2 linked regions of the Homo sapiens genome follow. The protein of the gene in region 1 purifies or fractionates together with the protein of each later gene. This does not show direct contact. Each region holds a gene or a part of one and is shown on either strand. Other genes may lie near its edges.

Region 1 (12,652 bases):
GTGATAAGAATGGCTCACTGTGCCTCAACTGTTTGTATAAATGATGTGATTTATGTTGAACACCTTTCCTTCTGGAAATCTAGAAAAAGTTCTTTATGTTGCCAGTATCTAAAATTTCAAGATGATATCCCTTACACAGGTCAATTTTCACCCACTGTAAAACTGCTATTGCCACTCATCTTTTTATTGCAGCACTAAGCAGACCCTCAATCCAGAAACCAATGTCCTTCAGATTAGAAAACTAGAGTTCAAAGATGTTAAGTGCCATACAAATAGTAAATGACAGGCCAACAAAATTCTTTAGGGCTAAATTACAAATACATGGCTCATTATAAAACTGTCTCTTCTTCAGTGATATAAACTTATTTTTATTTGCCTTAATCCCTGAACTCAATCCCAAAGCAGATTGTGGCCTTATTCTTAAAGGTGTACTGTACTTCAAATCACAAGCTGATTGGTTCTGGTCAGGTGCAGTGGCTCACACCTATAATCCCAGCACTTTGGGAGGCTGAGGCAGATGGATCATTTGAGGTTAGGAGTCCGAGACCAGCCTGGCCAACATTGTGAAACCCCATCTCTACTAAAAGTACAAAACTTAGCCAGGCTAAGTAATCCCAGCTACTTGGGAGGCTGAGGCAAGAGATCACTTGAATCCAGGAGGCAGAGGTTGCAGTGAGCCGAGATGGTGCCATTGCACTCTAGCCTGGGTGAACAGAGGAAGACTCCATCTCAAAAAACAAACAAACAAACAAACAAACAACAACAACAACAAAAAACAAGCTGACTGGATTTAGACTAAATACAAATGTATGTAGGCAAATGCTTTTTTTCCTTACCCAATAAGGTGAATCCTTATTATCCAAGGGAGAATGGAGTCAGGCTACTTTATTTTAATCCTCACTTTTCCACTTAATACTGGAAGGCACTGGGCAAATAATTTAACCTCTCTAAAGCCTTATTAGTTTGCTAAATTGTAAAATTAAGATGGTGAAAGTATCTATTTCACAGGTTGGTATGAGAAGTAAATAGTGTAATTATAAAACATAGCACAGTGCACAGTGCCTGGTACCTAGCAAGTACTTCATAAAAATTAGCTATTGCTGTTGCTATTAATGATATAAAACTATATAATACACTGCATCATGGTTACCTGACTGTATGTATTGTCTCCCTCACTGGGTCACAGGGACTATACACTTTTGTATTCTCAGAGCCTGGAACACAATATACTCTCAATAGCTTTTTTTTTTTTTTAATGTCTAAATCCTTATAAAGAAAAAAAGGGAAGAAAAAGATCTCTAAAATGTTACTCTCCAGTTTAAATTTAGCAAATGTAAACATGGTCAAAATGATCTCACTTGGTTCTTATTCACAGAATTTCTTTAAGGGATGGAGGGCAGACAGAAGGTATAATCATAGCTACCATTTCCTGAATGCCTAACATGTGCTACGGATGTGCTAAGTATTTTATATACACTATCTCACTTAATTTCCACAATAACTCTACAAGGTAAGAACAGTTAAAATCCTCCTTTTACAGATAACACTAAGGGTTTAAAAAACCTGCCAAAGGTGAAAGGCAGAAAGTGGTAAAGCCAGGACTCAAAACCCATGCTCTCTCATTATTCTACACTGCTTTCCCATGAAGTGCAAGGAAAGGAATTATTAGCCATCAAAAACACAAAGAACAGGAAACAAAGAGATCCCTGAAGTGACAGCTATACATTGTATCTTGATTCCTAACAAGCTCTAGTAATAACATTTTAAAAACCTAAAAAAAAAAAAAAGATGTTAATCTTGAATAGGACCACAAAACTCACAGGGTATCAAAAATGTTGAACCTCCCCCCCCAATGTAAAACCAACTGCAATTTGGCTGAAAACAGAGCTCAAAAAGTACTATCTTAAAGAAATTACTCCCCTACACCACCCACTGAAGAGATAAAGACAACTTTTTTTTGAGACAGAGTCTTACTCTGTCACCCAGGCTGAGCGCAGTGGCGCGATCTCAGCTCACTGTAACCTCCGCCTCCTGGGTTCAAGCAATTCTCATGCCTCAGCCTCCCGAGTAGCTGGGATTACAGACAAGTGTCATCACAGTCAGCTAATTTTTGTATTTTTTAATAGAGATGGGGTTTCACCATGTTGGCCAGGCTAGTCTCGAACTCCTGGCCTCAAGTGATCCACGTACCTCAGCCTCCCAAAGTGCCACCACACCCGGCCAAGATAAAGACAACTTTTGTCAGACTAACACACCTGATGCCAGAGCTGGCTGGCTAACCAGTTCAAAGAAAACAGGCATTTGATAGCTTTAATAGAACATTATGAAGAATCATTTCAGTTACGTTTCTCCACTGCACATTTGAATAATAAAAAATTCTACAAAGACACTTCACTGAAGGTATGGCATCAGGAACTCCATAAGTGCTTAGGAAGGATATTAAACACAACTCAGGTCTGAAGGATATGTAGTCAGTACAGGAAGGCATTTTCCAAATTAACTCATTTGAGGGAATACAGCCTTCTGTTCCCATGCATCTCACCACACTCAAAGGGATAGGGTGGGATCAAAAAAAGAGACAAAATAAGCCAGGCACAGTGGCAACATGTTTATAACTTCAGCACTTTGGGAGGCCAAGGTGGAAGGATCGCTTGAGTTCAGGAGTCTGAGATCAGCCTGGGCAACATAGCAAGACTCCTCCGTATCTACAAAAAAATGTAATTTAAAAAATTAGCCAGGTGTGGTGGTGCCCACCTAAAGTCCCAGCTACTTGGGAGACAGAGGCAGGAAGATGGCTTGAGCTCAGGAGGTATAGGCTGCAGTGAGCCGTGATTGTGCCACTGCACTCCAGCCTGGACAATAGAGTGAGAATCCATCTCAAAAAACAAAAGGACAAAATCCTTGGTCATTAGGATATGTCCAGCAAAACAAAATTGTTTTGAGTATGACACATGAACACCTTCAATTATCTTATTTTAATCACAGTGAAAACAGAAGTTATGCAGTGATATAAAAGACCTGAGTGGATTGCTTCATAAAGTTCCCTGGCTTGATAATAAGACTCAAAGGATTCCTCAATTCACACTGGAGAGATGAAGAATTACCAAGGGTGAGAGTGGTGTCAATGGTGACCCTGTTCTGATTTAGACAGAACTGAGCATGGCTTTAAGAAAAATAAACTTTTTCTCTCCTTTATCCCAGTTTAGAAAGTAGACAGAAGCTGCAAAGGGGGAAAGTAGTAGGAGATGAGGCATCCGAGAGAAACCATTTCCTAGTTATTAGGCTAAAGAACTTGAACTTTATTCTGAAGCAGGCAATGGAGAGTATTTTAAGCATGGGAATAACAATCAAATTTACGTTTTTTTTTTAAGTCATTTTAGTGGCAACCTGGCAGATGATCTGGAGGGGAGTAACACTGGACATAGAGATGCAGATGGGGCCTGATGTAAGTGCAGAGCCTCAATGCTCAACAGAGCAGCAGTAGGGGGACTGAAAGGGAGTATTCTGAGGTAGAATTGGCAGGACTTAGTAACAGACTAGTTATAAGGAACATGAAAGAGAAGAGACAGAGATGACCACCTACTAGAATTAGGGCTTGGATGACTTGTTGGAGCCATCATGTCATTTTCCAAGAAGAAGAATACAGGAGGAAAAAGGATAAATACCCATTTGTATATGTGGAGTTCTAAACTAAAATAAGGAGATAATAAAAACTGATGGCAAACTCAGAAGCTGAGATTACAATTTCAGTTGGAAATATATAGTGCCTATATCCCCCCCACACACACATATTTAGCAAGAAAGGAAAATGTTCAGTTTGGGAAGAAAATGATGTCTATCTTAAGAATGTGCACTGTCATCTAATTTAGATCCCAATTCAGCAAAAACATGGTATCTCAAAGAGATTATGCTCTTAGCAACACACTGAATCTTCAATTTCAATCTATTTTTTATAAAAATGGCCAAGATACACTGCAAAGAAAATTACTAGCTTAACAGTGCTTATTACTGACTGCATTCATCACTGGAGTTAGAAGTTAGGAAATTACCATGTGTTAATTAAATTATGAGCACACACATTAGTGACAACCCCAGAGAAACTGATTCTTAGGTTTTACACTGCCTTCTCTACTCCACCACAAACTGCATTTAGCAGTGACGGGGCTGCTTCTACATCAACCCAGCCCATGAATAGAGAAGCCTACATGACTGAAGCTCTTTGAGGGCCAGATCACTGGATCCATGACTTAAACATCCCACCACTGAACCCAGTAAGTGTGAGATCTAAGGCTGAAAAGAGCTTAAAGTTAAAACAACTTGATTCAGCATATTAATCAGTAATGCTCCAACAACGAAGTATTTTTTTCTACCAGCAAACTGAAATGTAGTCAACAATCCTTTCACTACTAGCAACTAACATCTTCTAAAGTCTGACTGAATTGTTGGCATAATCATCCAGTATGAATTTCTTACCTTTGCAATGGGTAGACAAGAAATCAGATATACAAAAAAAATGGTCTTTACAATTTAGTTAAGGAAAATCCTATACTTACAATGAATTATAAACTATGCTAAGTGCTAAATGGTAAGAAGTAGACATAGAGGGGCAAGGGCACACTACAAGTTCAAGGATCTGCAAAAAAGATTTTGGATAAAATGTTACCTATTTCCTCAGGGATATCAATCTGCAGCAAAGCTGACTGGGGAGGGTTGGAAGAGAGAGGGATGCTGCCAAGGAAGACCTGAATTAAGGCACGAAGACTGGCTAGGAATGTACTACATTGATACAGATGTGCGATGAGTCCTTATTCTAGAAAGGTGGCAGATCACGTGCTCCATTTAAGAATTACATGCAATCAGTTCTGAAAAATGCAGCTGAGTGCAAATTCAGGGAGAGGACCATACAGCCGTTTCATCTGAAATCCATCTCCTACTGCCTGGAAAAATATTAACTGTTATATGACTTTTCTGGGTTTCTTTTTCTTTTTAAGGAAACTGCCAAGCCTCTCAATAGCAATTCATTCCAGTGTTGGACATTCTTTTAAAAGAAAAAAATAATATTTTTAAACACAACCTTTATGGCAATTACACTCTTTATTTTCTTTAAATTAATATTGAATGGCTGCTTGCTATGTGCCAAGCACTGTTCTAGCCACTAGGGATATAGTCATAAACAAGACAAATTCTGCACTCAAAGAGCTTCTTCTTGTATGGAAGATAAAAAGTAAACAAATACGCATATAATTCCAGGCTCTAAAAAAGATTATACAGAAAAATGCAATAGAGTTTTTAAAAAGACTAAAAAATAGTGAGGGAAAATAGTTAACATCTGAGCAGAGTTGAATAAAGGAGTAACCCATGAGAAAATCTGGAGTGTCCCAGTGAAAACAGTACACCAAAATCCCCCAAGCTTAACGTGTTTGAGGAACAGCAGAAAAGCCAGGGTTTCCAGAGTATAATGACTCAAGCAGAAACTGACAGATGAGGATGACAGAAACAAGCAGGATCAAGAACATGCAGGGGCTATAAAATAGGCCACAATTAGGGATTTGGAGTTTAGCTAACTGAGATGGGAAGTTACTGGAGAGATTCAGCAAGAGAGTGAGTGATCTATGTTTTAAAACATCAGTCTGGCTGCTGTGTGGAGAACAAAATGTAACGGAGCCAAGCACGGAAGCTGGAAGACCAGTTGAAAGGGCTACTACAGCTCTCTAGGTAGGAGTGGTCAGATTCTGGATGTACAGCCAGGAAAATACGACAATGAGATGGCTGTGGAGTACAAAGCAAAGAGAAGAATCAAGGGTAACTCTCAGGTTTTTGTTTGAATAAATTAGATGAATGGAGGTATCTACCTGAAATGAAGAAGACTGGGAGAGAAGCACTTTGAGGGGTAAGCGGAAATCAAGAGATTGGCTCTGGCTATTGATGCCTGATACATGTTTTAGACATTTAAGTGGAGATGACAAGTAGGCGGTTGGACAGAAAAGTCTGGGACTTATAGGAAAGGTCCAGGTTGAGAATATAAATGTAGAAGTCAGCAACTTCTACATGTTATTTAAGTCATGACATTGGGTATCACCTTGGGATGAGGGTAGACAGAGGAGAGGGCCAGGGGTAATAAGCTCATAAGCTCAGGGACTGGCAATATTTACACAGGTCAGGAAGAAGACCAAAGAACAATGAAGACAACAAAGACTAGTTGACGTAGGAGGAAAGCTGGGGGCAAGTGGTGTCCTAGAAGCCAAGTAAAGAAAGTATTTCAAGAAAAAAGAAGTGATCAATAAGTCAAATGCTACTGAAAGGCTAAGTAATATAAAAAACTACTATTGAAATTTGATAAGATGGAGATCAGAGCAGAGAAATGGTGCTAGCAACAGCTGAAAAAGGTACCTAGGCAGGCAGATATATATATATATATATATATATATATATATATATTTTAATTAGTAATTAAAGTAATAGTATTAAAGTAATCAGTGTCTGTGATACCACTGTGTTACATGACATATAGTTTAAAGAAATAATAATTTGAAACTTTAAGGGTTACTCCAGGAAAGACAAAAATAAGTTTCTAAAATTGCGATATAGTTCACACACTATAAAATTCACTATTTAAAAATAATGCCAATTCAGTGGTTTTTAGTATACTCACAAGGTTATGCAACCATCACCACTATCTAATTCTAGAATATATGCATACCCTCAAAAAGAAACTCCATACCCATTAGCAGTCACATCTTATTCCTGTCCCCTATCCCCGGGCAGCCAACAATCTACTTTCTGTCTCTATGGATATACAAATGCAGTCATACTATATATGGCCTTTTGTGATCGGTTTCTTTCACTTAGCGCATTTTCAGGATTCATCCATATTGTAGTATGTATCAATACTTTATTCTAACGGTCAAATTATATTCCATTGTATAGATATATCACATTGCATTTATCCATTCATCAGCTGACAGACTGTTTCTACCTTTAGGCCATTATGATAACTGTGTTATGAACATTTGTGTGCCAAGTTTTCCTGTGGACACACATTTTCAGTTCTCTTGGGTATACACCTAGGAGTGGAATTGTTGGGTCATATGGTTAACTTTACGTTGAATTTTCTGAGGAACTGTCAAACTGTTTCCAAGAGTGCCACCACATTTTACATCCCTGTTAGCGATATATGAAGATTCTGATTTCTCCATATTCTCACCAAAACAGGTTATTTTCCTTTTTTTTCCCCCTTTATTATAGCAATCTTAGTGGACGTGAAGTGGTTTCTCATTGTGGTTTTACTTTGCATTTCTCTAATGACTGATGATGTTGCGCATCTTTCCATGTGCTATGGGCCATTCGTACGTCTTCTATGGAGAAATGTCTATTTACATCTTTTGCCCTTTTAAAAACTAGGTTGCTGTCTTTTTATTACTGAGTTGTAAAATTCTTTATATAGTCTAGATGCTAGACCCTTATCAGATATATGATTTGAAAATGTTTTCTCTCATTCTGTAGATTGTCTTTTTTCACTTTCTTGATAGTGGCCTTTGACACACACATACTTTTTATTTTGAGGAAATAAAAAATAATGAGTTTTGAGACGCTAATAAAGATCAGTTTGCAACAGTATTAAAAGGCCAGCACCTTGTTTCATTAAACACACACACACAATTATAGTAATGTTATAAAACCGTTCATCTTCTTTGTCAGAGCTAGGTAACAGGGCACAAGCATATCACCTGGAAGTCTGACAAGCTAAGATATCTTCCAGTAGAGTAAAAGAGGAGATACCTAAGGACATATGGTTGGTGGGTGACAAAGCCAAGGCCACAGCCTAGGTCTTCCACCTCACAACAGATGCTCATCCCACTACTACGTTAGCTAGCACATTAGATAGCACAAGGCACACTCTGGTATGGGAAGCAATGTGCTGAGTAAAGAAAGAGCACTGGATTAAGCACTGGGGGAGCCAGGTTCTGTAAGTGTTACTAATTCACTGTGTGGTCTTGGGCAAGTTGCTTTGCTTGTGTCCTTGTCTACAAAATGAGGCTGAAGTATCATATGAGTTTCAGGATCTCTTCATTATAAACATTTTAAAGAAACCACTATTAAGCAGAATAGCTTTTAAAAACAAAACAAAAACCTTAAAATGTCAGAACCAGAAGAGACTTTAAAAAATCATTTAAGCCAGTAGTTCTCAACCTGGAGGTAACTGTTAAAATGCAGAGGTAATAGAGACATGTGAAGAAAAATGCAGATATTCAGGCCTAAAAAAAGGTCCAAAAATCTGTTAATTTTAACTAATTCTCAAAGGAGTCTGATGTAAACAGATTAAAGCTGTGCTTTAAGATCAGGCTGACAGGCCAGCCAGGAGACAGAAATCCAGGTATAAGGCTAAAAGGGTCTAGATAATAGCTTCTGGAAAGCATGGTTTAACACCACATATCAACTTTAATAGCCAAAACAAATTAAGCAAGCAGCTTTTCTTTATAACTGCCAGGCAGAAGAAAATGCTTTGATGTATTTGGGGCAAAATAACATACTGCAATGATCTAAGTCAAGTTATTCTGTGATGGAGGCGGAAAGATTATATTTGCATACTTATTTTTAAGATCAGGAAACAAGAATTGCTGTGTTCTTAAAGTCAGTTTCATAAGAGTAGAAATTCACATCTGCTTAGGGAAAACTAGGAGCATATTTGCATCTCTTTATTACACTTCTTTATGGCAAGTGAAACTACAGCTGCAGAAATAAAATAAAAACCCTCCCCGCCCAAATCAAGACACATCAAATTAAATAAATTATATTAGGCTGGGTGTGGTGGCGCACGCTTGTAAACCCCGCACTTTGGGAGGCCGAGGCCGTTGGATCACCTGAGGTCAGGAGTTTGAGACCAGCCTGGCCAACATGGTGAAACCCTGTCTCTACTAAATATACAAAAATTAGCCGGGTATGGAGGCACATGCCTGTAATCCCAGCTACTCGGGAGACTGAGGCAGGAGAATTGTTTGAACCTGGGAGGCGGGGGTTGCAGTGAGTGGAGATTGCGACAAATCGAGACTCTGTCTCAAAAAAAAAAAAAAATTATATTAAAGGTAATAGCTTCTCATTCCCACACAGCAAAAGCCTCTCTATTCATTCAGATCCTGCTCCACTGAGAATAACATTTTTTTCCCCAAGTTCTCTCCCACAGTACCCTCAGTCTTCAAACAATTAGAGGCACCATCCTCTAAAGCTGTTTCTGAAGACTGAGGTGGCAGATCTCAAGTTTTTTCTCTGCGAAATTCAATGCTAAAAGTACTTATCTTGTGTTGATCACTACAGAGAAGCACTCACAGGAAAACGGGCAAATACAAATTGGTGAAATAATACAAGACAGTATGTCATATTAAGTGACAGCTTAATTCCCATGTGCAGTGTAAGTGCTAGAGGAATTCAGGGAGGGAACAGTTCAATGTAAGGCTGAAACTAAGTTTTCCAAGAAAAGGCACTCAAGCAGCTCTTGACTATTCTCTTCTGTCCCTCACTTATTGGTTAAATCTTCCAAGCACTCTTTTGTGAGACCTTTTATCTATTTCTGCTACTCATGTTGGGGTTCTCATCACCTTGTCATTCTATTTTTTACCACAGACAGCCCTTTACAAAGAACATTTACTTCTAGTAGATTCCAAAGGACAGGGAACAGAGCTGGGTGCGGTGGCTCATGCCTGTAATTCCAGTACTTTGGGAGGCTGAGGTGGGCAGATCACTTGAGGCCAGGAGTTCACGATTAGTCTGGGCAACACAGTGAGACCTTGTCTCTACCAAAAATAAAAATAAAAATAAAATAAAAAGGGCAGAGGAAACCAAACTAAAAAACCCAAAGAACATTTACCAGCACTATACAATTTGATCCTTACAACAAGCCTATAATATGTATGAATGTCCACAATATTTACATAAGGAAATTTAAATTCAGTAATATCACACAACTTATCCAAGGTCATGTGGCTTTTATTAGGTAGGTGCAAAAGTTATCGTGGTTTTTGCCATTACTTTCAATGGCAAAAACAGCAATTACTTTTGCACCAACCTAATAACATGCGGCACTAGAACTCAAATTTGTCTCTTTTTATTATATATTATACACTACTGTGTATACGGCCTTATTAAGAAGTCTTCTAATTTCTGTCTCTCCAAACCATCTGAATAGTTTTCCTAAAAACCACTTTACACAGTCTCAAAACCCTTCAACAGCTTTCCTCTACTTCAAGCAATCCACGGCCTCCCTAATCAGATGCTATCTACTTGTCACTACAGTTCCTTTAGAGAGCCTTCTAGTCAACTCAATACCTGAGAAACATAAAACACCATCACATCTGTGTAACTTTACTCAAGGAGACTTTTTTACCTGGCATGTCTTTCTTTTCTCCCCCCAAATAAGGTGCCAGTTCCACTTTCAGGAATGAGGCCTTTCCTTCAGGCTCTTACTCTTTTTTTTTTTTTTTTTTTGAGACAGAGTTTCCCTCTTGTTGCCCAGGCTGGACTGCAATGGCGTGATCTCGGCTCACTGCAACCTCCACCTCCCGGGTTCAAGCGATTCTCCTGCCTCAGCCTCCCGAGTAGGTGGGATTACAGGCATGCACCACCACACTTCGCTAATTTTGTATTTTTAGTAGAGATGGGGTTTCTCCATCTTGGTCTGGCTGGTCTTGAACTTCCGACCTCAGGTGATCCGCCTGCCTTGGCCTCTCAAAGTGCTGGGTTTACAGGTGTGAGCCACTGCGCCCGGCCGAGGCTCTTACTCTTATCAATAAGCTCGCAGGGTTCACTCTATTTCTCTCATTTGAACTTCCGTAACAAGTACACACTTGAGCGAATATACCATATACTTCCTTAAATAGATTCAATTACCCCATCTCCTATATTTGGCTATTCTGAGTGCTCTCTGACAGTAGGATTCTTGATTTACTCCTCCACCATCACACATCTGTACTGGACACTACAGGTAATGGAGATCATTAATGTGTACTGTCTTACTTGGTTCTTCCCAAAACCCTGTGATCTAGGTGCCAGAGATTCCAAAATTCCAAATGAAGAAAGGTTAAGTGACTTGCCAATCTTCATACTGTTAGCAAGTAGCAGAAATACTTCAAAGCTGAAATCTTATGATCCCCACATCCGGGTTCTTTCAATAACACAATGGTGCCATATACACTATTCCATAATAATAGTATTCTATACTGCCTTAGCAGAATGCCCATACTTAATGTTTGCTGATGATGATCCAAGTGCAAGGAAGAGCAAGAGCAGTTAGTGGGGCAGGTAAGCACAGGCTATGAGGTGCTTACCTAGCAAGAGGGAAGGATTTGTGTACACAAATGACCATCAATTCCCCATACTCTCACATGTCTTGAAGCAATTTACCATCCCAACCTCCAGAATATGTTTCTGTATCTTAAGGTTTGAGTGTGAGGCCAGGTGCATGGTGACTTATGCCTGTAATCCCAGCACTTTGGGGAGCCAAGGTGGGAGGATCTCTTGAGGCCCAGGAATTTGAGACCAGCCAGGGCAACACAGTAAGACCCTGACTCTACAGAAAAGTTAAAAGCAAAAAAATTAGTCAGGCATAGTGGTGCACATTTGCAGTCCCAGCTACTCAGGAAGCTGGGGTGGGAAGATCACCTAAGCTTAAGAGTTCAAGGCCGCAGTGAGCTAAGATCCATTCTGGGCAATGGAGCGTGACCCCTCTCACAAGAGAAGAGTGTGAGAACCATGTCTTTCAAAACCAATGACACTCAAAAAGACAAGTAAAAAGACCTGGATCTTAACCCCTCAACATAATCATGTTTTCATTTCTTAAGCACCTACCATGTGTTATGCACAGGGAAGTCTGAAAGCTGTTTTCAATTATATTCAAAAATTCTGCTTACTATATTAAAGACACCATGCTTAACAATTCTCATCAAACCAGCCCAGGGCCCTACAATGAGAGAACTGGAAGGGAATTTAGAGTTAAGTCCCTCATTTTAAGGCTAAATCTCTCACTTTGCAGATGAGAAAACAGATATAGAGAGAGCAAGCATATTTCAAGGTCACAAAGCTAATTAGAGGCAAAATCAACACCAGGACGTTGTTCTCCGTGCAACTGTTTCTTCCAAGATGCTGTGCAAAGAGCAAGAAAGGCCAACCCAGGGACAGTTTTCCTTTTTTTCTTTTCTTTTAAACCCTTGTTGCTAGGACTGCAGTTAAAAAAAATTTTTTTGGATGAGCAGAGGGAGGAAAGGGGCAAGCGTGAGCGGGCAGCAGTGCACTTGGTAGCAAAGAGGGAGGTGGAGGGAAGAGAGGAGAGGGCGGGGAAAAACAACAGGAAAAAAAGAAAAATCTTAAAGGCTTCTTGTCAGCCCAGTAGAACAGTCAATACTCAAATATTTTCAGTATTCGCCTATCATGATAAAACGCCTAAAAACTTCAGTAAGCAAAAGGACAAGAAGCACTTTGGAATCTGTAGCAGCACGCAAGGGTGATGGTGGTAGAGAGTTTGGGGGATACTGATTCTTTAATCTTTGGGCTTCGGTTTTCCGTGTCTGTGAAATGGGCACTGACAACAGTGCACCCAGCCCCCCAGGAGAAAAGAGATGGACACGATTAAATATAGGAAAAATCAAATTACCGAAAAAGGTGT
Region 2 (12,652 bases), on another chromosome or scaffold:
ATGGTCTCTGTGCTTTCTTATCTGCCAGAGGGCGTTCTTTTTCCACCATTGTATTTGGTTCCCTGCCTCCTGTGTTGACCCCTTTGGCAGCAGTCTCACTTGTTTTTTCGCTATCCAAAATCATACTAGTTTCTTGCTTGCTTTCTTCAATTTCTGGATCTGGATGAATGGTCCCTAAAACTGCTCTGTCAGGGACTTGCAGATTAACATCAAACTGCCTGCCCTGATTCCCAGGGTTTTTTTCTTTAGACCGTTTTGCATTTATAGCGTTTTCATCCTCTAGTAGTTCTTCAGAGGGATAATCATCCTCTTCTACTTTAGAAAGGAAAGCTGGTCCTCCTGTGCTGTCAGTTTGGTCTGTCTGTCCTACCTCTGTGCCCTGCATTGCCTTGTGATGAAAAAACTCTTCATCCAAGGAGTCCTCTTTGGCTTCTCCCTCAGAGAGCCTTATCTTCTCACTCATTTGCTTACTGGCTGTGGCAGCCACATCTCTTTCTTGTTGCCAGGGAAGATTTCTTCCCAGAATGGGAACCTCGTCTTCCAGTTCTCTGGGCAAATCAATCTCATCTGGAGAGGAGAATCTAGGTTGGTTTTGAGTTTTAAGAACTAATTCCTCTTTCAATTCCTCACGTTGATGCTCCACTGAAAGCGTGTGCAGTTTGGCCCCATTTACCAAAGCGTCTCCCTCCACACTGTCTCTGGATGCGTTAGGGTGGTCATCTCCCATGAGTGGTGCACTACCCAGGGATTCCTGTTGAATCTTTCTGTCATTCATTTGATTCCCTGCAGCTTTCTGTGCAGATTCACTCTCTGAGCCACCTTCCAAAATCTGCTCTCCAGGCTTTTCTTCGTGGAGCATTCCTTTTGAGATATGAATAGCTGCTCCTTTTAGGTCATTTTCTGTATCATCATAAGCTGATTTTAATGTGTCTTTACCCTTTTCAGCAGCTGGCATAGAGTTGAGGTTATTGCTGTGAACAGAACTGTGCACAGTCATGCCTTCTTGATTTTCATCCTCTAATTCTGTCTTATCTTGTACCAGGCCCCTCTTGGATTCCTGAACTCCCCTCCCTTTTCCTTTAATGTGATGTTCTGCGTTTACTTCTTTGTCATTATTTGTTTTAGGAATGTCTACAATAAAAAGACCATCATCTACATTGTCAGGGTCACTATAATCTGTTGCTGACTGTGGTTTCCCCTGTTTGCTATCTGGGACTAATGCATCATCATCATCTTCTTTTTCTTCCTCTGAACTAGAGCTCTCTAAATCCATCGTATCTCTTGTTTCTTCACCTCCTGTGACAATAGAGAAGATAGTGTCCCCCCAGGTTGTTAGTATATTTTTATCATCATTTTTGATGCCAGGGGGCACAGTTAGCTGAACCTTGTCCTCTTCATTTGAATTCTGCTCTTTATCTGTTGGATATTTCTCAACGCCAGACTTTGCTGGAGTTTTCATATCTTCCCCATCTGTAAAGGTAAGTAATGGCAACTCATCAAAGTCTTCTTGGTTCTCCTCATCTTCCTTTCCAACTGCATAATACTCAGTATCCAATTCCTCATCAAAATCATCTTCTAATGAAGTAACGAGTCTGGTTGTCTCATCATCAGATACAAGTGCATCAGCTGTTGAGCCAAATTTGGTTTTCAAGTCTAGAGTCATTTCTTTTTTCAAAAGTTTATAGGCATCAATCTTATCCTGTTCATTTGAGACCTGAGAACTATTGCTGGTTTTGTTGTTTTCACTTTCTGGCACTTTTAGTTTATCTTGCAGCATTTCTTCAAAAGATTCAAATGAAGCCTGCTCTCCCTGAGCATGATTTGCTTGGCTGTTTGCATGGGAGTGGTGCTTCTGAGTTGTAAACTGTTCCTGAAGATCCTCAGTGTTTTCTGAGAATACACTATCACTTTCCTCTGAGTTGGCTTCTACTGGTTCAGGTTCAGGTTCCCTTTCCTTAGATAATTCAGGGTTTTTTTCCATATCCTGTAAAGTTTTTTCTACAGCTTTCTCAGAATCTGTAGCTGCAGAATTGTACAGTTCCAAAAACCCTAAAAGTTCTTCTACATTATAATTATGAAAATCATCTCTTCCTCCATCAAAACAAACAAAATCCGTCTCCTGTAAGAAAAAGAAAAACATTAGTCTGTCAATAGCCAAGTGTCACCAGAGCAAAGTCTTATCCACGTTAATGATTGAGATAATCTCGAATTCACGTTTGGCTCTAGAGGAGCTTTTGCGTCAACACTGGGCACTGACTGTTCTTGGGCAGTGGGTGGATAGGAGGCTGGAACCCACTTTCCCATCTGAGTAATACTCCTGGCTTCCCTTCATTCTCTCTTCCCCAGGGGAAGAATGATTCATGTGGCTGGTGAGTTTGCTCAGTCCCAATCCTGTTTTCTGTTTGGGACCTGCTGGAGAGGAAACACATATTCTGTTCCTCCATGCTGTCCGTTTTACAGGGACAGTCCCACCTGGGGAGACCCCTATTGGATAGCTCTGTCTGTGACTGGATAAGTCCATCTTAGTTTAGACCGCAATGTTAGAAAGCCCATTATTTCTGCATACTCCAAACAGCTTTATCAGTAAATAATGGGGTCATTTTGATCTCCTATTTGCCCAACTCCTGGGTCTCTCAATTTTGTTTTGAGCACAGGTGGGGAAAAGTAAGGTGTCATTTATTGGGTTCCCCAACTCCCATCATCTATGCCTGATGTTCTGGGAATTCACCTTATAACCCATCCAGGAGGAGCTGAAAGACCATCAGCTTCTCTACATTGTGCCCTCTATGTCATACTTCTCTGCTCACCCAGTCAGAAACAGGCAGAATCACCTGGCTGTCAGGCTCTCAGTCTACATGGATTTGGGGCTCATATTTTCCTTGGACTGGGAAAGAAATCAGCTTCAGAAGGAACTTACTGAGATACAGGTGCATGAGATATAAAAATGTAAGAGAACAAAGAATGGTGTAAAGGAGGCTCCCCATTTTCATACTGCCACAAGAACAACTTGAAAACAAGATTCAGTAAGGTAGGTACCTAACTCCAAATAAGGATTCTAGCCAGTCACTAAGATCTGCTTTCAGGACTGTCAAGTAAATCTGTATTTTTCCCTTCCTCCACCAGTAAGCAAATTGACATACAAGGAGCCATAAAATGATGGAAAAGTTAAAAAACCAACAAAGATAACTTTCTTCCCCTAACTAAACATTCACAATCTTCTGGTGAGAACTGTCCTGTGTACTGGAGATGAATGACTTCCCTCTTTCCATCATGCACACTTCTGAGCCAATTTTTTTAATATTAAGGGAATCATGCAGTGGGAACTACAATTAGTATACAGGTCAGGTCTCTGTGACCAATGAATTGCTGTCTCACACTCAAATCCCGGGCAGTCTCTTCATCAGGAGTGAAGCCAAACAGGCAATACGATTGACTATATAACCCCTGAGAGCGTCGAGAAATTTTAAGCATAGCAATAGCTCTGTGACTTCACTCTGCCAATCTCTTCTAAGAACTGCCCTAGCCCAGCAGCTTGCACGCTCTGCAGCAACTCCAAAGAGCTACTCAAAGACTTTTGAATGAAAGCAGACATCAATTACTATAAATTCTAAAACTCACAAAACAATCAGATGGGGGGCTGGGCATGGTGTTTTTTATATATATATATGAAAGGCAGCCTGTAATCCTAGCACTTTGGAAGGCCAAGGCAGATGGATCACTTGAGGTCAGGAGTTTGAGACCAGCCTGGCCAACACGGTGAAACCTCGTTCCTACTAAAAACACAAAAAAATTGGCTGGGTGTGGTGGCAGGCGCCTGTAATCCCAGCTACTCCAGAGGCTGAGGCAGGAGAATTGCTTGAACCTGGGAGGCGGAGGCTGCAGTGAGCTGGTATCGCACCACTGCACTCCAGCCTGGGCGGCAGAGAGAGACTCTGTCTCAAAAAAATAATAATCAGATGGAATGCAGATTCTAGAACACAAAATCCTTCTAGTCACGAAGCCATTGTGCACTATAGATAAATGCTCTACAGAATGTGTAGTTAGCGCCTTACAGATATGAGACTGGACCTCACCTGAAACTCTCTGGTTCCCTTTTCCAAATCTATAACTATAATCGCTTAAATCACTACAGAGTCAATAATAAGAAAACCTTTGTAAGTTTGCATTTCTGGCTCAGTATAAAATTAGAGCTTAATTAATTTAACCTGATTTCTATATCCTTAAAATGTCTAACAGCTATCCAATAAGTAGTTTTCAAATTTCTCCTTTTGCTTGTGAAATGAAATTTTTTGCCTTCTAACATTAATAAGTAAATATAAAACTACTGAACTCTTAATTTTTCACATATAAAGCAGCAAAGAAAAGCCTTGTATAAGAGTACACGGCCTTGGCCGGGCGCAGTGGCTCACGCATGTAATCCCAGCACTTTGGGAGGCTGAGGCGGGCGGATCATGAGGTCAGGAGATCGAGACCATCCTAACACAATGAAACCCCATCTCTACTAAAAATACAAAAAATTAGCCAGGCGTGGTGGTGGGCGCCTATAGTCCCAGCTACTTGGGAGGCTGAGGCAGGAGAATGGCGTGAACCCAGGAAGCAGAGCGTGCAGTGAGCCGAGATCACGCCACTCCACTCCAGCCTGGGTGACAGAGCGAGACTCCGACTCAAAAAAAAAAAAGAGTACATAGCCTTATATAAGAACATCTATTTCCATATATTAGATAACTATCAGATTATGATAAAATCTCATTTAAATTCTTTTGAAATTTTTCTTTTTTTCTAGGTAGTCACTTATAAGCCAACTTATAACTGAGAACAAGACAGAAATCCACAACTTACATCTGTTGGAACTTGTAGCTCTTCTTTGGTATATTCATGAACTACCTGGATTAAATCTTTTGGAAAATATCCAAAAGTGCGTCCAACCTACACAAAAGAATGGGCAAAAGGGACACATATCAATCAAATTCTGTATGAGAAATATGAACGATAGAGCTGCAAACCTCAATCTACAGCACATATCAAGCAATCAACTTTTTCTTGTAATGTCATTACTTTTCTCCGCTATTTGAGACCACTTCCAACATCACTAGTGACACTTTGTATGGGTCCCAGAGTGTTATTCAAGGTTTACAGTATTGCACTAAACACAAAAAATACATGAGAACCACAAGAGATCACTTTTTACTCACTGTACAATTTACTGGAGAGATGAACTGCTCACGTGGAAATGATTAGCGTCGCATGGCATTTTAAGTGGATACTCACAATACTTGAGCTCACTAGAATAGCAAGAGGAGGTGGCTACGAACTATTATAGTACAGTAGGTAGCACAATTAATTTATGCAATTATGATTTAATATTTTATCTTTACGTTTGTTTATATTTCTCTCGACTGCAAAAGGTGCCATGTAAGATCTGAGTTTGTGTGTGTACGTTTTGATAAACTGTAACTTTTTATACAGATTTGTGTATGTTTTATGGTAGTAAAGAATAAAATACACTAGGATCTACATATGGTTTACATGTCAATAACATACCTTTTTCTTAATTTTTTCAGTATTTCTAGGCTATGCGGTCTGAGAGTTTTTAACAAATTAATGCAAACCTCCACAAAATTTTACAATATATTTATTGAAAGAAATCTGCATTATAAGTGGACCCACACAGTTCAAACCTGTGTTGCCCAAGGATGAACTGTATTTGCACATATGATGTGCTATACTGCCATTTTCCAAAACGATATTACAGGTAACTGGAGACAAAACAAAATTACAGTGTAATACACACTAATCTGCCCACCAAGCTTTCATTTCATGCAAACCAAAATCTCTACAGAAAATAATTCCATTCATTTTCAGCACTAGTAAAATGTGCCCTCTTGAGAAACACACAGTCTTTTACTAGCTACTGTCTGAAAGGAGAGGTAGATCTCCCAATCATTAAAGGAGGAGGCTGGCATGTAAATCAAATGCACAAAAAGAAAAAAAGGCCATCTTATCACTAATTCATAAAACATCTCCATTCATGAGTGCTCTTGATCTGAAAACTATCTGAAAGCCAGTATTAGTAGTAAAATACTGCCATGGAGATTAGATAAGGGCAATTAAACTCTGTGTTATTGGCAGATCAAGTCTAAAATGCTAAGAAACCAAAAAAGACTGCAGAATGAAAACTAAGAAACAAATGAGAATCATTTTGAAAGCTGAAGACAGAGTTTTTAATTTCCTAAGAATAAGGTTCATCAAATTAGAGGGGAGACTATTTTAAGGGAGAACCTGGAAAAAGGAAACAAATCAGAGGTAGAGGTATATAGGGAAAGGGAAATACAATACATTTACCTTCCTTAATCTTTGTCAGTTGGGACCACAGGTGGCATCTCATTTCTTATGATTTGACCAAAAAAAAAACAAAAAAAAAAACATAGGCTCACATGACAAGAAAAAATCTTTATGTCTAATTTTGCTTTCATACATCATTTCTGCCAAGGTACTGTTGATTTCATTTGGGCGGGGGGTAGGAGGGAAAGTAGAGTATCGCCTTAAGAGAACAAATTCTGCATAAGATAATATCAGGACAAATATAAATAAATGCCACTGCCTCGTCAGGAAATACTGAAAAAGAAGACAGATAAGGCATGAGCCTTTCCATTAAAGAGTCTTTCACTTTACGTGAGCTAAGACAGTACACAAATTAACTGCCATACAAAGCAGTAAAGCAAATGCCACATGAACAGTGCAAACAAAGTGCCACCTAAACAATCATCAGGCAGCAAAGATCCCTTCTGGCTGGGTGCTGAAGGCAGCGTTCCTTAAGAAGGCAGGATGAGAGGTGTGACCCAGAAAGACTGACAGGACATCCAGAGATGAAGACGTGAATGAGCAAAACTGCAGTGGGAGGAAAATGTTAAGTCAAGTTCATTCATCCAAATGCTCAAAGATGAGGAGTGGAAAAAAAAACTTAACTTTTCTATGAAAAAACGCAGCCTAGGTACATGGAAAAACATTTCCAAGAGTAAAGATTATCAACAAATCTCATTAGGTAGACTTGAAGGAAATAGAATAGATTTGTTTTGGTATGGAGCAAGTCACTTGGGATGCTCTCTAAATAGGAGAGCTGAACCTGACCAGTTGTTGTTTCCCAAGATTACTCCCTAGGAACCTGGAATGCCAACAAAATCAGTCTATTTTCCCCAAGGGGATTTCTCAAGCCTTATTTTCTCTTTGTTTGTTTGGTGTTTTACTGACAGTGAAAACTTTCATAGTCGGGATGGGTATTTCTCTAAGTTGGGACAATCCTAAAGATATCGAGGACCCTTACTACTTGAAGTAAAGACACAGTCCACATATCACGCTTTCTAAAAAGGAAAGGACAATAACTCATAAGACAGGCCTCTCAATCAGGTCACTCCCAGTGAATCTCCTCATTAAAAATACCAAAGCATGATGCAGTCATTGATTGCCAGGTCTGATAGCAGGGTACCCATAAAATCAGCTGGGAATCAATCCCCTGGGGTAACCTCCAGACACAAGTGTCTGAAAAGCAGGACAAGGATGACCCCAAGGCTGCAAACAAAAATACAAACAAGAGGCTGGTTGCGGTGGCTCACGCCTGTAATCCCAGCACTTTGGGAGGTCAAGGTGGGTGGATCACAAGGTCAGGAGATCGAGACCTAGCTAACACAGTGAAACCCCGTCTCTACTAAAAAAATACAAAAAATTAGCCGTGTGGTGGCAGGCACCTGCAGCCCCAGCTACTCGGGAGGCTGAGGCAGGAGAATGGCGTGAACCCGGGAGGCGGAGCTTGCAGTGAGCCGAGATCGCGCCACGGCACTCCAGCCTGGGCGACAGAGCAAGACTCCGCCTCAAAAAAAAAAAAACAAACAAACAAGAAAGCACACGAGAAACAACATTTTGCTTTTTTACAGACTTATAATAGCACAGATGATTAGGGAACTGTTCCCAAGACTGCCACTTTTTCATAAATAATAATATAAACAAAGAAATACACATAAAATCAACTTTAAGCTTACATGCCTGAAACACTCTCTCACATATAGTTTACAGGAGTAAGTCTAATTCCTATGAATACTTCCTTTTTAAAGCAATGAAGTATTTTTCAGCTCTTACCATTTCAACCTCTAATACGTATGCAGCATCCTAGAGGTTGACCCTGAGGGGAACTTGCCAGAATCAGTTCTATTTCAGAAGGCTCTGCTGAGCCCCTACTCTGTGCAGACCCAAGGCCTGCTGGGGACACAGGGCCATCTTTTTTCACAGTCAGGCAGAGAGGACAAGTTAACTCCATCAAAGGTCCCAAGAAAATGCAGTCATTTAACTCTACAGTGCTAAAGAAGCCAATAAAAATTAAGCAAATAAAGTATGTCGATATTTTACTTACACTTCCAGCCCAAACTTCAGGCCATCCTCTTGCCAGTTTATAGTAAACATATACAGGATCACCTTTTTTAAAATTCACAAAACGACAATCCGGGCCTGTGAAATCTTCAAGAGCCTCACCGCGGTACATTAACACTGTATATAAAGAGAGAGAAAAAAAATAGCCAGATATCAGGATTCAGTGTTCACAGTGCATATTGATTTATCAGGAAATATAAGAATCCCACTATAAACAACAACCAAGTTTTTCCAGTACTCTCTGGAATTTCTTTCATATGCTCAAAGTATCTCAAATCCTTTGAGCTTTACTGCTATAAATCATACCTTCTGCAAGCAGACAAGGGAAAGGAAAACCTTCTCTATTTTTCTCTATGGATAATACTGAGAAACAAAAAGCAATGTGCCAACTACCACACATGGCTTTTCTCACCCAAGTGAAACTCTCGATTCCCTCTCTAACCTTCTAGTCCTCAATCTTTTCTGTTTCATATTCATAAAAAGCTTCCTTTTGCAAATGGGTAAATTCAAGCCCAGATGATGATTAACTTAAGCATGGCTACATGAACGGGTAATAGGGAACTAGAGTACCCAGGAACCCCCAAGAGGTCAATTAACTTGAACTAACCACTAAAAGGGTCTATCTTCAAGTGACTGTAACCAGTACTATGTAGCAGTAAACACTGTCAATTTCATTTGCAGCCAAGTTGTTCCCTTAGTACAGTGTCTGGATAAATTAATGGGAAAAGATATCTATCACACCCTACTATAGATTCAATTACATCACAAGGCAATATTTTCTGAAAGTAAATAATGTTGACTGTATCCAAAATTAAGTTTCAAAACAAAGGAAAGAATACCCTTATGTATATTTTTCTATAAACAAAATCAAAAGTCGACATCTCATTTGGCTGGGACTAAGCAAAACTATGAGAATAGGTCAGTAATTCAATCACGCTTGATCTAGAAACTGGCTGAAGCAGTACTTTTATTTTTGTTGACCACATACACAGTTTCCCATGTAAGATGAAATGGACAATAAATACATCTAAATAGCAGAGACAAAGAAGGACGAATAGAAATAAGATTTTTTCCAAAAGCCAATTTGCAATAAAATACATTAAAAACGTGCCTTTAAATGGCTATACACGCATATAGATTTGGAAGGGGCTACTTGTTTTTTGAAGCTAAACTCTGATTACTTTCCAACATGTCAGCTTTGTAGCTCAGATATAATTGAGTGTGAGGCCAGGTTTAAGATGATGGACAATTTAAGGTTGGGAATAAGATCAGAATTGAAAATGGCAATGTTTCTTTTGCTCCCCCTTACAATAGATCATAGAGGATTTATAATAATATTTGAGATGCCAACAAAATGCACCCTGTGGAACAGCTATTTGAAAACCACACAAGGGCACCGTACATACTCACATTACTAAACACTTTCTACAACACAACACAGACCCATCTAGACCTTGCTCCTGTTGATGCCTATTGTATTTGGTTTCCTCTGAACACGTACCATTTCTCAAGTTATGTTACAACCGTGAGCTCTTCTAACATCATGCCTCAGTACTGAAGAAGCATCAGTGATGTGATGATTCTCCAGGTAACCTGTTTTGAGGAACCCAGGCAGGGCAATGCTTGCAAGCAAAGAATACCAACTATCTTGCCATTGCCAACGGCAAATGGGTAACAGCGTGGCTTTGACCCAAGAAAACTAAAGGGAAAAATCATGGCAGTTGTACCGCTTTTGTAGTGTTTATTTACATCAACCACAGGGTTATCTCTAGGAATGGCTTCACACTCATTAGAGATCTCTTTTCTTGATTAGTGTTGTAGAGATACAAACAGTTCATATTATGAAATTCGGTTTTGATAACATCAATTTGAATATAAATAGCTAAACCATAGAGTTCTTGGCCTTCTTAAAATGAATACGTTTCTATAGGCATTGCTTAACAGTGTATGAAAAACCGTTTCTGCAGTGGCTATCAGTAAGTTACAAGGTTGAGACGGTCTGGGAGGCCCTAAAATGATCCTGGTCCGGCGAACATAGAGGGAAGAGGTTTCAACACGCAAGCGGCTAAGGCTAAACCAAGCTTGGCTTATGAGACCCTTGGAGTATTTACTGTCATTCCTGTAATAACCTTCTTCATCTGAGCCTGAAGATCTGTGCCCTCTCCACCGCCCACCTCCAATCCCAGACTGGAGAGCAATTCCGCTTCCTGCGCACAGAAGAGGAGGCTGCCGGTCCCAGGTGGCCGGTGCAGATCCTCGGTCTCTGCAGAGCGAAAGATTTTGGTCTTCCTGCAGTCCTGCCTAGCAGTCTGCAAGGCGGCTTCCAAGCACAGAAACGACAGGATTGATCAAAGTCGGGGCAGAGACCTCGGAATACAATGAGTGCTTGGACTCCAGACTCGTCCCAAACCTAAACTCCCAATTCCTGTTCAAAAGGCGGTACAAGCCCAAATCCCAATAAAGCAGAAGGGCAAAGGAGCAGCGCCAGGGAGCCTTTCCAAACAAACCCCACCATCAACCTGCCACTGGGAAAACGCCCACCGAGCCCTTAGCGCATCTGCCGGGGTGATGCACCCACCGAGGTCCCCGCAGCGCGGGCAGGAAAGCTTTGGTTGCGGCGTGGGGAGCCCAGACGCGCGGCGCGCAACCACATCTACCCTCCGAGCCCAGGCGGATTGGGGGGGTGGGAAGGGGACGCTGTGAGCCACTATTGGGGAAGCCGGGGACCACCGCAAGCAACCCCCCGCCTCAGCAGAGGAAAAATAAAACGCTGGCAACAAGTGGGAGGTGCAGCCCCCATGGTCAGGCCCGAGGGGCCGGGCGCAGGCAGAGCGGGAGAAGGCAGACACAGGGACCCGGAGCGCGCCCACCCCCGCGTTCAGCCCATCCCGCCTGCGACCCCCGGGCCGGCCAGGGGCTGCGGAACTCCCGTCCCCGCACAGCCCAGGCGGCGCCGCCGCGGAGACCCCCGGGGCCGGCGGAGACCCCAAGGCCAGCCGCCCCGAGGCCAGCCGCCCCTCCAGCGCACTCACTGCTGCATTCGTCGTCCGCGCAGAGTTTGTGCTCCGAGAACCGCCGGCCAGTGCTGGGGTCCAGCTGGCCCGGCACCCGCCAGGGCAGCCGGAGCACGAGCAGCCAGACGAGCAGCCCAGGCGCCGCAGCCATGTTGTGGTCACCTCGGGGAGCCGGTGACGCGGAGGAGGAGGCCGGGGCGGGCGCAGAGGGGCGGGACGGGGGCGGGGACGGGGCGGGGACGGGGGGGCTGGGGCGGGGGCTGGGGCGGGGACGGGGCGGGGACGGGGGCGGGGACGGGGGCGGGGGCGGGGGCGGGGACGGGGCGGGGACGGGGGCAGGGACGGGGGCAGGGACGGGGGCAGGGACGCGGGCAGGGACCAGGCGGAGCGCCGGGGGCATGTGGGAAGACAAGCGCAGAGGGGCGGCGCCCGCGAAGGTCTGAGCAGTTTCCGACTGACACGTCAGCAGAGGCTCTAGGAGGGATGCGGGAGACCTCCAGGAGGAGGACTGACAGCAGCCTCCTCCTCTCCTCGAAGCCTTCTCCTCTGGTCGCTGCCGTGGCAACCAGGACTCCCTCGCCCAATCACCTGCCTTTGCCCCAGTCCCTCGCAGCACCTCCGCGTGACTCCATTCTTAGTTCACCCCTCCCCGCGCGCTTGGGTCCCCCAACCCTGCGCCATCTCAACAGGTCCCTTCTGGCGCCTTCTCGCAGTTTCTGGTTTGTGGCCTGTCCCGAACCAGCCCCCCACTTCACCCCGCTACTTCACCCCGCTACCCCCACTCTTGGCATGGTACCTCCTTTTCTGAACTGCCAAATCCCACCCGCGATTTGCCACTGTTAGTCTCTGGTTTCAGGCTCCCTCCTTTTCAGCCTCCCAGGGCTTCCTTGGGGGCACCATCCCGTGGTGCTCTTTGATTAAGAAAGGGGGAGGTGAGTGGAATAGGGGGCTGAGGATATAAATCAGAGCCCGTGGCCTGCTTGGTCGTTGATAGAAATGGGTAATGGTCCTTGGGCTGAGATCTTGAGATTCCTAGATCTATATCCATAGGAAAAAAGTAAATTAATTTAATAACAGTGTGATGAGCTTCCATTTTATACTTATTTCATGCCAGAATTAAGATTAATCTTCACAACAATCGCACCTTAGAGTAGTAGGTCCTATTATGATCCCCATTTCAGAGATGACTACCTTAAGGCATTCAAACACCTAGTGAGTGA

Evidence for each region.
Region 2: the proteins of SPCS2 (region 1) and MIA3 purify together in Homo sapiens (affinity purification with mass spectrometry; 2 studies listed by BioGRID and IntAct, with this or other methods). This does not show direct contact.

The regions. Positions count from the first base shown.
Region 1 is NC_000011.10:74,949,638-74,962,289, reverse strand, and holds part of SPCS2 (signal peptidase complex subunit 2), read right to left. Parts: intron 1-12,652. UniProt on the Homo sapiens protein: Component of the signal peptidase complex (SPC) which catalyzes the cleavage of N-terminal signal sequences from nascent proteins as they are translocated into the lumen of the endoplasmic reticulum.
Region 2 is NC_000001.11:222,617,042-222,629,693, reverse strand, and holds the start of MIA3 (transport and Golgi organization protein 1 homolog isoform 1 precursor), read right to left. Parts: upstream 11,598-12,652; 5' UTR 11,584-11,597; coding exon 11,451-11,583; intron 8,536-11,450; coding exon 8,402-8,535; intron 6,388-8,401; exon of another isoform or gene 6,343-6,387; intron 4,927-6,342; coding exon 4,840-4,926; intron 2,120-4,839; coding exon 1-2,119.